Homo sapiens: one gene and its partners. The protein of the gene in region 3 interacts with the protein of the main gene of each other region in a pairwise test. Each region holds a gene or a part of one and is shown on either strand. Other genes may lie near its edges.

Region 1 (3,756 bases), 470 kb from region 3:
TTAGCATTCTTGTCTCACTTCTGACAGCTTTTACAGAGTCGCTGGCACAGCTCACTATCTAAACTCTCCAGTTAGTAAGATTTGACTTTCCTGTCTCTAATGATAAGATGGCCACCAACAGATTTATCAAGCAATCCTTTTCTATTAAAACAGCTATTATTAATCACAACCCTTCTTAAATTTACATACATGGTGATAAAACTCTCACATATATATTGCTCTAATATCATTTAAAATGATTAATACATTCAAAAAGAGTTCAAAGAACATTTAACTTGGAAGCATAAGGTGATTGTGACTGCTGGGATAAATAAAACAGATTCCCTTCTGTTGCTATCAGAAAGATATTTTCAACTACAAATCCGATTGGTTAGTTATGTGAATAATATTGGTACTCATCCTGAAAATGTGGGTTTTGTGCTGGCTGTGGAAAGACAAGAATGATACTCAGAACTAGAAAGAATGACATCATAATTCTCTCCCTTTCAATTCCTTCTCTAACTCTTCCTCCTCCTTCTTTGTTTGGTTTATTTAATATCTTTTATATTCAAGAAACTATCTGGTAGTAGGAATTAGATGATAGGAATGCAATGACACATAACTTCCTGATTTCTTAGAGTTTATAATGAAGTAGAAGAGACAGAAAGATAATATAAGGTACCATAAAAAATGGATAAAAACTTGCTCAATCATTATAGGGGACAGGAGGGACAGGAGGTTCACTCCAAGCTATTACTCTCTGGGAAGGCTTCATAAAGTGGTAGGACCTTTGAAATAAGGGTAGGACTGAGAAAAACGAAGGAAGGAAACAGCATTCTAGGCAACTTTAAATTTTTATTTGCTTGTTTCCTTGTAACCTATCTTGTTTCAGAAAGAGTTTAATAGCATAAATTAAAAGTGTGACAAAATAATTTAAAAATTGAGACATAAAATACAACCAGTAGAGTAAAGCTAAAATACATATTTGAACAACCTATGGTTTTTAATGTGAGAACAAAACTGAGTGTAAGCAATATAACATTTTGAGAAAATGAAAAACAGGTTTTAACTGAATTACAGTGTTCATTCATATATGATATAAACAGGAGGATAAGGAAAAGATGTAGAAAGTTTGAAATACCAAGGTAAATAATTTTGATTTACTTTTGTTGGCAGAAATGCACAATCATAATCATAACATTTTAGCTAGAAAGTACTTGGGACCTCTTAGCTGACAAGACTGTGAAAAGTCATTTTACCCATATTCCTTATTTTTTTTAATTTTTTAATTTAATTTATTTTGAGACTGAGTCTCGCTCTATCACCCAGGCTGGAGTGCAGTGGCGCAATCTCGGCTCACTGCAACCTCTGCCTCCTGGGTTCAAGCGATTCTCGTGCCTTAGCCTCCGGAGTAGCTGGGATTACAGGTGCCCACCGCCATGCCCAGCTAACTTTTGTATTTTTAGTGGAGACAGGGTTTCACCTTGTTGGCCAGGCTGGTCTCGAACATCTGATCTCAAGTGATCCGCCTGCCTTGGCCTTCCAAAGTGCTGGGATTACAGGCGTGAGCCACCGTGCCTGGCCCCATATTCTTTAATTTATATGAGAGTGCTATTCTAAAACTCCCTCCCTGACTGAAAGCGGCAAAAGGTTGGCCAGAGCAGCTCAAATATGAAAACTGAGGAAACGGAAACACACACACACACACACACACACACACACACACAGAGAGAGAGAGAGAGAGAGAGAGAGAGAGAGAGAGAGAGAGAGAGAGACGGAATGAATGAGTTCCTGGCAGATGATGTAAACTGTAAGCTTCTGGACCCAGCTTAAGTAAAGTAAGTGACCCTTTTTGCCTTAAGTCAACTTGGGTTGTATTTCCTATTACTTAAAACCAAGATAACCCTAATTAATAAATACTTAAATGAAGAATAAGCAATATTTGGTAATTATAAAGACAGTAGAAAGAGATGAGGTATTATGTCAAGGTTTTGTATGTGGGAGATTGAAACGAGGGAGTCTTGCAGTATAGTACTTCTGAGGAGGTAAGTAATTTCCATTTTATATCTGTTGAGTTTGATATAATAGTGATAGAAACATAGCCAAGTAGAAAAGTCAAACTAGCTTTTAAAACAACAGGCCGGGAGTTTGGAAGAAAGAACAGAGCAGTTAACTAGCAGGCATTTTCTTCATTTCTCACAAAAGAAAACTTGGAAACAGTTAAGTTAAGAAACTTTTCCAGGGGTTTACACACAGTGAGTACTGAGGATAGTATTTAAATAAGTGCACTCTGATCCTGGAATCTATACTATTAACCATTTTGCTATATGAGGAGTATATTTCAGATGCATGCACTTTTCTGACCCTGCCTGGGAACACTGAAAACTTGATGACTTTGTAGATTTAGCCAAGCCCCTTGCTTATGTGAGAAAAGTTGGCATGTAAAAGTCCTGTAAAATGTTGGCTGCCTTAGCAAGTGTAAGTATATAATTCTGTAATGACACTAGAAAAAGATGGTGGCTTTGAGATATAAGTCTAATATACAAGCTCATTTTGTGTAACTAATCACAGCAAACTTGTGCTGAACTTGTGATTTTGAGAGACTATAAAACTGGTCGTTATCATTGAGTTCAGATCAGATAAATACAGACTACAATAGTTTGTCACACTGACTGCAAAAGGCAATCCTTGGCAATTATGCCATATTAAACTGATAATTAAAAGTTTATGAATAAGAATGGTGACATATAACTTGAAACAATTATGCACTTAATAACTTAAGTCCTCCTTTCCTATTCTCTGCCCTCAAAATTAGAACTAAAGATTTCTAGATTGAATGTTCAGGGCAACTGGACAATTTTCTTATAATTTATAGGGAAAATCTGGTCCATGTTTGTTTACATAATCACTTGTTACAGATAATATATTTTGGGGTATTAGTGCATTTTTCTATTATTGTATCACTGTCCTCCAGGGTTTTGTTCTCCAGGTTTGGGTTCTTTCCTCTGATGTCCCCCTTAATAATATGTCACAGGTATGGAGTGAAAGTGTGTAGGGGAGGAGGAGGAAGTTTATCCTTCACCTGTAATGACGCTTCTACTCATTACTGAAATTGTTATTTGTTTTGTTCTGTTGGTCAGACAAGGTGTTTCACTCCAATTTGTCCTCACTTTAAATGTGAGATTTTGTATTAACTTTGCTAAGGTCTTTTGCCCCACTAATATTTTATGATTCTGAATTTAAAGCCAATATAATTAAAATAAAACTATTGTGTTATCAGTAAAAATCTTCACATTTACTGGGCAACTAAATGGAAACAAGTTAGGTTTATTTATATTTAGCATTTTTGGCCTTAAAGCAAAATTTATGTAAGATGCAAAGATAGGCTATGTATGAAAAATTCTATGTTAAGCCAGAAATTACTAGGTGTCTACAATTTGAACCATATGTGTCAGTAGCAGAATTCTTTTGTTTATTTGCAAAATGGTTTTATTGTCCAGGATTATACTTTTCTTGTATTAAGAGAATCATTAAGTGGCTCTGTGCCTAATACATAGACACTTGCCACTGAAGCTTTCAAATTTTTACTCACTTTAATTCAGCAAGTCAAGAATTCAAACATTCTCTTAATATTTACTAAAACTCACAGCCTAGAATTATTTTTGATTTAAAATTTTCAATCAAGAGCTCACAACTAAATCAAAGAATTTCATGAGGACGAATAAAAGCCTCATCTTACCTCCTAAGATTTCAAAATTATTAAAAAGAATAATTTTA
Region 2 (3,756 bases), on a different chromosome or scaffold from region 3:
TTGTTGTTGTTGTTGTTTTGTTGTTGTTTTTGAGTTGTAGTCTCACTCTGTCACCCAGGCGGGAGTGCAGGGCCTGATCATGGCTCACTGCAACCTCCACCTCCTGGGTTCAAACGATTCTCCTGCCTCAGCCTCCTGAGTAGCTGGGACTACAGGCACGTGCCGCCACGCCTAGCTCATTTTTGTATTTTTAGTAGATATGGGGTTTCACCATGTTGGCCAGGCTGCTCTCAAACTCCTGACCTCAGGGGATCCACCTGCCTTGGCCTCCCAAAGTGCTGGGATTACAGGCATGAGCCGCTGTGTCCGGCCAGAAACTATTTTTTAAACAAGTCTTGTAATTGGTTTTTGAGCAGGAAGTGATATGCCCAAAATGTGCTTTTGGAAGATTGCTCTGGCAGTGGTCACACAAGCTGGAAGTAAGAGACCTCAAAGATAAGGATCCAGCTTGGAGACAGATGCAAGTTGAGGTGACAAAGACACACATTGGAGGAAAACACATTAAGGAGGAAATGAGTAGCTGGAGATGAAAAAAAAAAAAAAATCCAGAGCTGGGGCTTGGATAAAAAGGAGACAGAAATAAGGATACCAAGAAAGGTTATTTGGTTTGGGGGAAAAATTAGCTTTAGAAATGTTGATTGCAGGGTGAGAGTAGGCAGCAGAATAGTAACATGCAGTAACCAATTGATAATAAATTCAAAAGCTGAGACCAGAAAAAGTAAGACCAACAAACCTGTGATTTTAGGAATAAAAATCATCTCAATAACATTTCTTTGTTTAAAATTATTTCACTGAGTATGACATTAATATATCCTCTTTATGGAAAACTGGAAAAAATATTCACTGGGAAGATCAGTGAAGAATTTCTTCATTGGGGGAAACTGGCAGCCATAGCATACACACACATGCACACGCACACACTACAATCTAATGAGTGGATACCATTGCACTATCAAGGTAAGCCTCAAAATAAAGTGGGAATAAGAATTTGAATCATAGTTTTCTTTTCTGTAAACTGTAGATGATGTAGACAGGAATGGTACCTATGTGACAGGGCAATTTCAAAAATAAAATATAATAAAATATTAGCTATTATTTCAAGTGCCCTTATTTGGCCAATATTTGCTTTCCAGGAATAATTGTCCAAGAATTTTGGCAGAAAACCAGACTCCATGCAGGAATGGAGAGTGCCTTAGTTCCTGCTGCTATAATAAAAATACCTTAGACTGAGTAATTAATAACAGAATTTTATTATTCACACTTCTGGAGGCTGGAAAGTCCAAGATCACTGGCAGATTCAGTGTCTGGTGAGGGCTCATTCCTCATAAATGGCACCTTCTATGTGTCCTCGCATGGTGCAAGGGAGGTAAGAGTACTCCCCTCAACCCCTTTTATAAGGGCACCACTCTCATTCATGAGGGAAGAGCCATCATAACTTAGTCACTTCCAAAAACATCCCACCTCTTAATATCGCCACAGTGAGAATTAGGTTTCCATGTGAATTTTGGAGGAACACATTCAGGCCATAGCAGATAACAACCAAGAAATGAATCAATTTTTATTACATTTTGGAAGTTACAAACTGATGCAGATTCAGTTTTTCCCACAATATGTACTTTGTTTGGTTTAAATGAAGATTAATTGCCAATATTTTACAATTGAAAAGTTTTACATAAAAATCCATATTTTTACTTTCTACTGAAAACTGAGAATTATTGCCCTACTTGATCATGGCAACAACTGGCTGGACTTCAGTAGCAGCTCCTTCTCCTCCTTAGATGGAAATTGTGCTCTGATGCCTACCAGGCTCATTTAATTCATTTATGTCACACACGTGGCTTCTGGGGGCATTTGAATTGGGACTTCTCTTCTAGAACTTACCTTGAAAAGGCCAAAAAGGGAACCCGGAGAATCCTCTCTTTCTTTCTCCTGCTGTTCCCAATGAGATGTTAGTCATCTAATTTAATGCTGATTATAAGACCCTTTTCAGACTATTTCTAGCATCTATTTGTGCTAGAAGTGCTAATAGTGAGTTAAGGCAAATTGAACATGTGAATTTTTATTTTACACTTAATATCACATATATTTGTTTTCTAGAAATTCTCTGAGTATCATAACTTGAATCTATACCTGAATTTATTATTTCCCCTAGGCAATTTTGAAATCTCTTCCATAAGTATATTACAAGTAGCTACTGGAGGATGACTGAGTCAACTGGTCACACACACACACACACACACACACACACACACACACACACGAGTGTATTTTAAATTTTCAATTCTTCTCCATAAGGGACACAGTACTAAATAAAGCAACGAATTTAATTTTTAAAAGACATTGGTCAAAGAAAATTTGCCATACAATCTTGACTACGCATTGAAATATCCTGGGGAGATTTAAAACATATCCATGCCCAGGTTGTACCTCAGACTAACTAAATCAGGGACTCTGGGGATGGGATTTAGGCATTAGTGTTGTTCCAAGCTCCCAGGTGATTGCAATATGAAGCTAACAGGTAGAAGCACTGCTGCAAAAAATGCCTACCAGATATCATCATAAAACTCCTCCTAGCTAATAATCACTTGTTCTCTTTGAGCCACAAGTGCTTCATCTATAAAATAGGAGCAATAATGACTTAATTCACTGAGTAAATGTGAAAGAACTATAAAGTGCTATGCAAGTGTGAATAAACGATGAAGAGGAGGAAGAGGATGAGAAGGAGAATGGTAGAAATGCAGGAGCACTGGCTTAGAAAATGCGGTTGTATTATTCACCCTGATACTATTTTAATTATTTTTCAAGTGCCAACTTAGAAAATGCACATCACATACACCCAACAATATGGATGAATCTAAAAATTATTATCCTGGATGAAAAAACCCAGATAAAAAAGACAAATATTGTATGATTCCACATATATAAAATACAAACTAATCTATAATGACAAAAAGTAAATCAAAGGTTAATCTTTGGGGGTTGGCAGAAATATTCTGTTATCTTGACTGCAATGGTGGTTTCATGAGTGTAGTCAACTGTTAAAACTCATGATATTGCATAATTTTAATGGATGCCACTTATTATATGTAATTTAGCCCTCAATAAAGTTTGTAAAGAAAAAATAGACTAATGGAAACTTAGTTAGGAAAAAAAAGTATTATTTCCTAATTTTAGGTATCTTTAAATGCTGATTTTCTGAAAGTGCATCAGTAGAACAAAAGTGGAGGAAAGACTAAGCAAAATGGAAGATGATCTTGGCAGTAAACTCTTGATCTCTGTACTGTACTCAACAGTAGTGAGGGTATAATACTGTCAATATTTTTGTGTTTCTGAGTGAGAGGAAAGAAAGCTGGAGCCCACTCAACCATCCTCAAAAAAACTGTTGCTCTTACCACATATTTTTTGCTGCAGTTTTCACTCTGGCAACATTTATAGTTGTTATTATTCTCCAGTACCAGAAGAACTGTTGTTACTATAAGCATCTATAGGAGGGAAGACATAAAATGTTAGCAATGAAATGCTAGTTTACATTTGTGCTTATAATCAGAGGACAGCGTCTTCAAGCATAGAGTCTGGGGTCAGGTAGATATGGATTTGAATCCAAGCTCTGTCACTTTCTAGCTGTGTGAATTTGAGACACCTTCTGTATAAAATGGTATCAAGAGATCGTCACGAGGTAATATATGTGACATTTTGAGTATAGTGGTTGATTCATAGTGACTGATAAATGTTAGCTATTATTATCATGGTTAGCAA
Region 3 (3,756 bases):
AATACGGAGAATGTTGCTGCTTTATGACCAGATAATCTCTCGCCTACGTCTCCTGCCTCACCCCTCACCCATCCCTATCTCAAAACTCCATCCAGCCTTATTTTCTTGATTTGTCTTCCTTCAGAAGTTCTAAACCCTCAAATGTCTTCAATCCTCTGTGCTATCCCCCATTCCTGAAAGACAAGTCCCCTCAAGCTTCACCTGGATAATTTCTGCTCTCCTTCCAGACTGAATTTTTTTTTTTTTTTTTTTTTTTTTTTTTTTTTTTTGAGTTGGAGCTTTGCTCTGTCTCCCAGGCTGGAGTGCAGAGGCCCGATCTCAGCTCACTGCAACCTCCGCCTCCTGGGCTCAAGCTATGATCCTGCCTCAGCCTCCCAAGTAGCTGGGATTACAGGCGTGCACCACCACACCCAGCTAATTTTTGTACTTTTAGTAGAGATGGGGTTTTACCATGTTGGCCAGGCTGGTCTCGAACTCTTGACCTAGGTGATCCACCCACCTCAGCCTCCCAAAGTGCTGGGATTACAGGCGTGAATCAATGCGCCCGGCCCTTCCAGACTGATTTTCAGCCCACATGTCATACTTCCAGGATGCTGTTTTTAGTCCTGGCCAACTCTGGAAGAAGCATGCACCCCTTTGGGTTGCTCTCAAAATTTCCTCAACTTTCCTTCTCATACCACTTAATCAGCCTGAGCTTTAATTGCCTGGATACTTGTCTGTTACCTCGTTGTCTACTCATCACTGCAACTCCAGTGCCTAGCTCAGAATCATCAGATGGCAAGCACTCAGTTAACACACATGTTCAATCAGTAACCAGACTTTTGGTCCAGCCCAAGGTAGCCATCCTGATAAATGATGATGGAAAATACCTCTGCAAGCACTGGAGCCTCTCATCTCAAGAAACTCCAAGAGCATTTCTGAAGAGAGCAAATATCTAACCATATTATTTAACTTGATTTGTTTCAAATAATCAAAATAATCAGGGAGAATTTTCAGCCTCCAGGTGAAACAAACTATGTTTTCTAAAATTTGGTTAAATCAGTTATTTATTTTTAAAAAAATCAGAGAAATGGTCCGGGTGCAGTGGCTCATGCCTGTAATCCCAGCACTTTGGGAGGCAGAGGCGGGAGGATCTCAAGGTCAGGAGATTGAGATCATCCTTGCTAACATGGTGAAACCCTGTTTCTACTAAAAACACATAAAATTAGCTGGTTGTGACAGCACGCGCCTGTAATCCCAGCTACTCAGGAGGCTGAGGCAGGAGAATTGTTTGAACCCATGAGGCGGAGTTTGCAGTGAGCCGAAATCGTGCCATTGCACTCCAGCCTGGGTGACAGAGCGAGACTCTGTCTCTCTCTCACACACACACACACACACACAAAATCAGAGAAATGTAGATTTTCTAGGAAACTGCCAGTTAAGTTCATCTCTCCAGCTCTTAGTATGTGGCAGGCATTTGTTCTAAGGGCTTTATCCATGTTTACTAATTTAGTTCTCACAACATCAGATGAATGGGTACTACTGCTATGATCCTTTCCATCTAACAGATGAAGAAGCTGAGGAACAAAGAAGTTAAGTAGCTTTCCCAAGCCCACACAGCCAGCAATTTGAGAAGCTAAAAATCAGAACCTCAAGCTATCATTACACTCCACTGTCCCCTGAGCTATGCTAAAATGCACTTTGCAGACCCCATACTTCAGGCATATCGAGACCACCCCTCATCATCAGAGCTGGCAGACAAACTCAGGTGCAGCCAGTGGGATTTAATGTACCTAAGAGGTGCGTGTGCATGTGTGTGTATCCATACCCACATTTTCCCAAAGAAATTGCTGTATTATTATGTCTAACACTTTTTATCATGGCTCCAAAGGAATCATCACATCCTAAAGAGAAGCCATGTTCACAGTTAAATGTTCCAAACCTCTACATAGCAACCAAACAGAGACCTTTGCAGACATCCCCAGTAGTCCACTGGGAGGCATTTTAACGAAAGATATAAAAGAAAGGGGAATGTCTATGGAGAGGGAATCTATACCTTGGAGGCTTCAGGCTTTGGCAGACGGCTTTCCTCCCAAGTCCACCTTGTCGCAAGTAGGAGACACTCAGAAAAGATCACTACAGCATCTTTTCCCGATAACGGAAGCCTCCACAGACTTAACGTTATCTTTGCCTTATGCAACACTTTAGAGGACTTGGTGAAAGTGTTTTGCGGGCTGACTGACCAGTGTGCTAATCACATCTGCATTTGGGGCCTCGCTGATCCATTGTGTTTCCCCAGGGCTTAGTGATGATTAGGAAACTGGTGTGAGGGATAACTGTCTTCTGGCTTTCAGATGTTGCTTAACACATTGCTGGAACAGGAAACACAAGCAACAATATGGGTAGACAAGTGGGAAGAGGTTGTGGGTTGGAGGTAGAACAGTGTTAGGTGCATAGCAAGAAGAGACAAAGTCACACTGTAAGAGAAGCATCTGGAGGAGGGAGGTGGTCACTCAGGCACTTATTTTACATGATGTGCCAGCAACGGTGCTATGTACCTTATATGCGTGATGACATTCAATTCTTACATGCTTAGAGAGGTTAATTACTTTGCCCAATATCACAGATATAATAATAATGCTAATTATTGTTTAAATGTATTAAATGGTTACTACATACAGGTCATTGTTCTGAATGCTTTACATATGTTAATTCATCTCATCCTCACAATAACCCAGGACCCAGGTACTACTATTAACCCGATGTTATGGTAGAGAAAACTATGGTATAGAAATGTTACCCAGCTTTCCTAAAATTTAACTGGAAAAGCCCTGTGCAAAATCTCTGTTTTGTACAATGGTGAAGCCCGAAGTGTGCCTGTTATCCTAATATGATTGTTAAAACCCCTCCTTTCAGTTTCTTTTTTGTTTTTTGGTTTTTTTAGGTTTTTTGTATTTGTTTGTTTGTTTCGTTTGTTTATTGAGATGGCGTCTCACTCTGTCATCCAGGCTGGAATGCAATGGTGCAATCTTGGCTTACTGCAACCTCCGCCTCCCGGGTTCAAGCAATTCTCCTGTTCCAGCCTCCTGAATAGCTGCAACTACAGGCATGCACCACCACTCCCAGCTAATTTTTGTATTTTTAGTAGAGACAGGGTTTCACCGTATTGGTCATGCTGGTCTCGAACTCCTGACCTCCGGTGATTCACCTGCCTCAGCCTCCCAAAGTGCTGGGATTACAGGCATGAGCCATCGCGCCCGGCCTCCTTTCAGTTTCAAAAGTGGCCAAATTATATGCTTATCCTAAATAAATGTCCTAAAATAGGCAATAGAAAGATCAGAGCCAAGTGACAAGGAGTAAGGAAGTAGGTAACGTGAAGATTCAAACCACAATCCTTATGAAGGTCACAGGGCCAGGCCTGAGAGAAAGAATGAGGGCACAGCCCCTGATCCATGCCCCAGGGGAGTCTGTGAGACAGAGAAGAATGTTCACAGCAAGGAAAGCGAGGTCCTAGTCCTACAAACAGGAGCGTCAGTGGGGACGTGATCACAGGAAAGAGAAAGAGGGCCAGTTACCAAGACCAAAACATAGTGTGTGGGCAGAGATTGTGAATATGAAATGAGCAGGGGCCCAGTTGCCAGAAAATTTCTGCACAGGTGCTTCTGCTAAGAGAGCTGGCACCTGAGCCCTAGGGCAGCGGCTCTCCAGGGTCTACATTTAGGAGCGAAGGAAGGGACTGATGAAAGAGAAGACAGAGACAGAGACAGAAGTCAGAAG

The links.
Region 1: the proteins of MS4A3 (region 3) and MS4A13 interact in binary tests that used the Homo sapiens proteins (3 or more experiments, as listed by UniProt).
Region 2: the proteins of MS4A3 (region 3) and TM4SF18 interact in binary tests that used the Homo sapiens proteins (3 or more experiments, as listed by UniProt).

Annotation. Positions count from the first base shown.
Region 1 is NC_000011.10:60,525,361-60,529,116, reverse strand, and holds part of MS4A13 (membrane-spanning 4-domains subfamily A member 13), read right to left. Parts: intron 1-3,756. UniProt on the Homo sapiens protein: May be involved in signal transduction as a component of a multimeric receptor complex.
Region 2 is NC_000003.12:149,326,938-149,330,693, forward strand, and holds part of TM4SF18 (transmembrane 4 L6 family member 18), read right to left. Parts: intron 3,483-3,756; coding exon 3,393-3,482; intron 1-3,392.
Region 3 is NC_000011.10:60,055,020-60,058,775, reverse strand, and holds the start of MS4A3 (membrane-spanning 4-domains subfamily A member 3), read right to left. Parts: upstream 2,112-3,756; 5' UTR 2,036-2,111; intron 1-2,035. UniProt on the Homo sapiens protein: Hematopoietic modulator for the G1-S cell cycle transition. Modulates the level of phosphorylation of cyclin-dependent kinase 2 (CDK2) through its direct binding to cyclin-dependent kinase inhibitor 3 (CDKN3/KAP).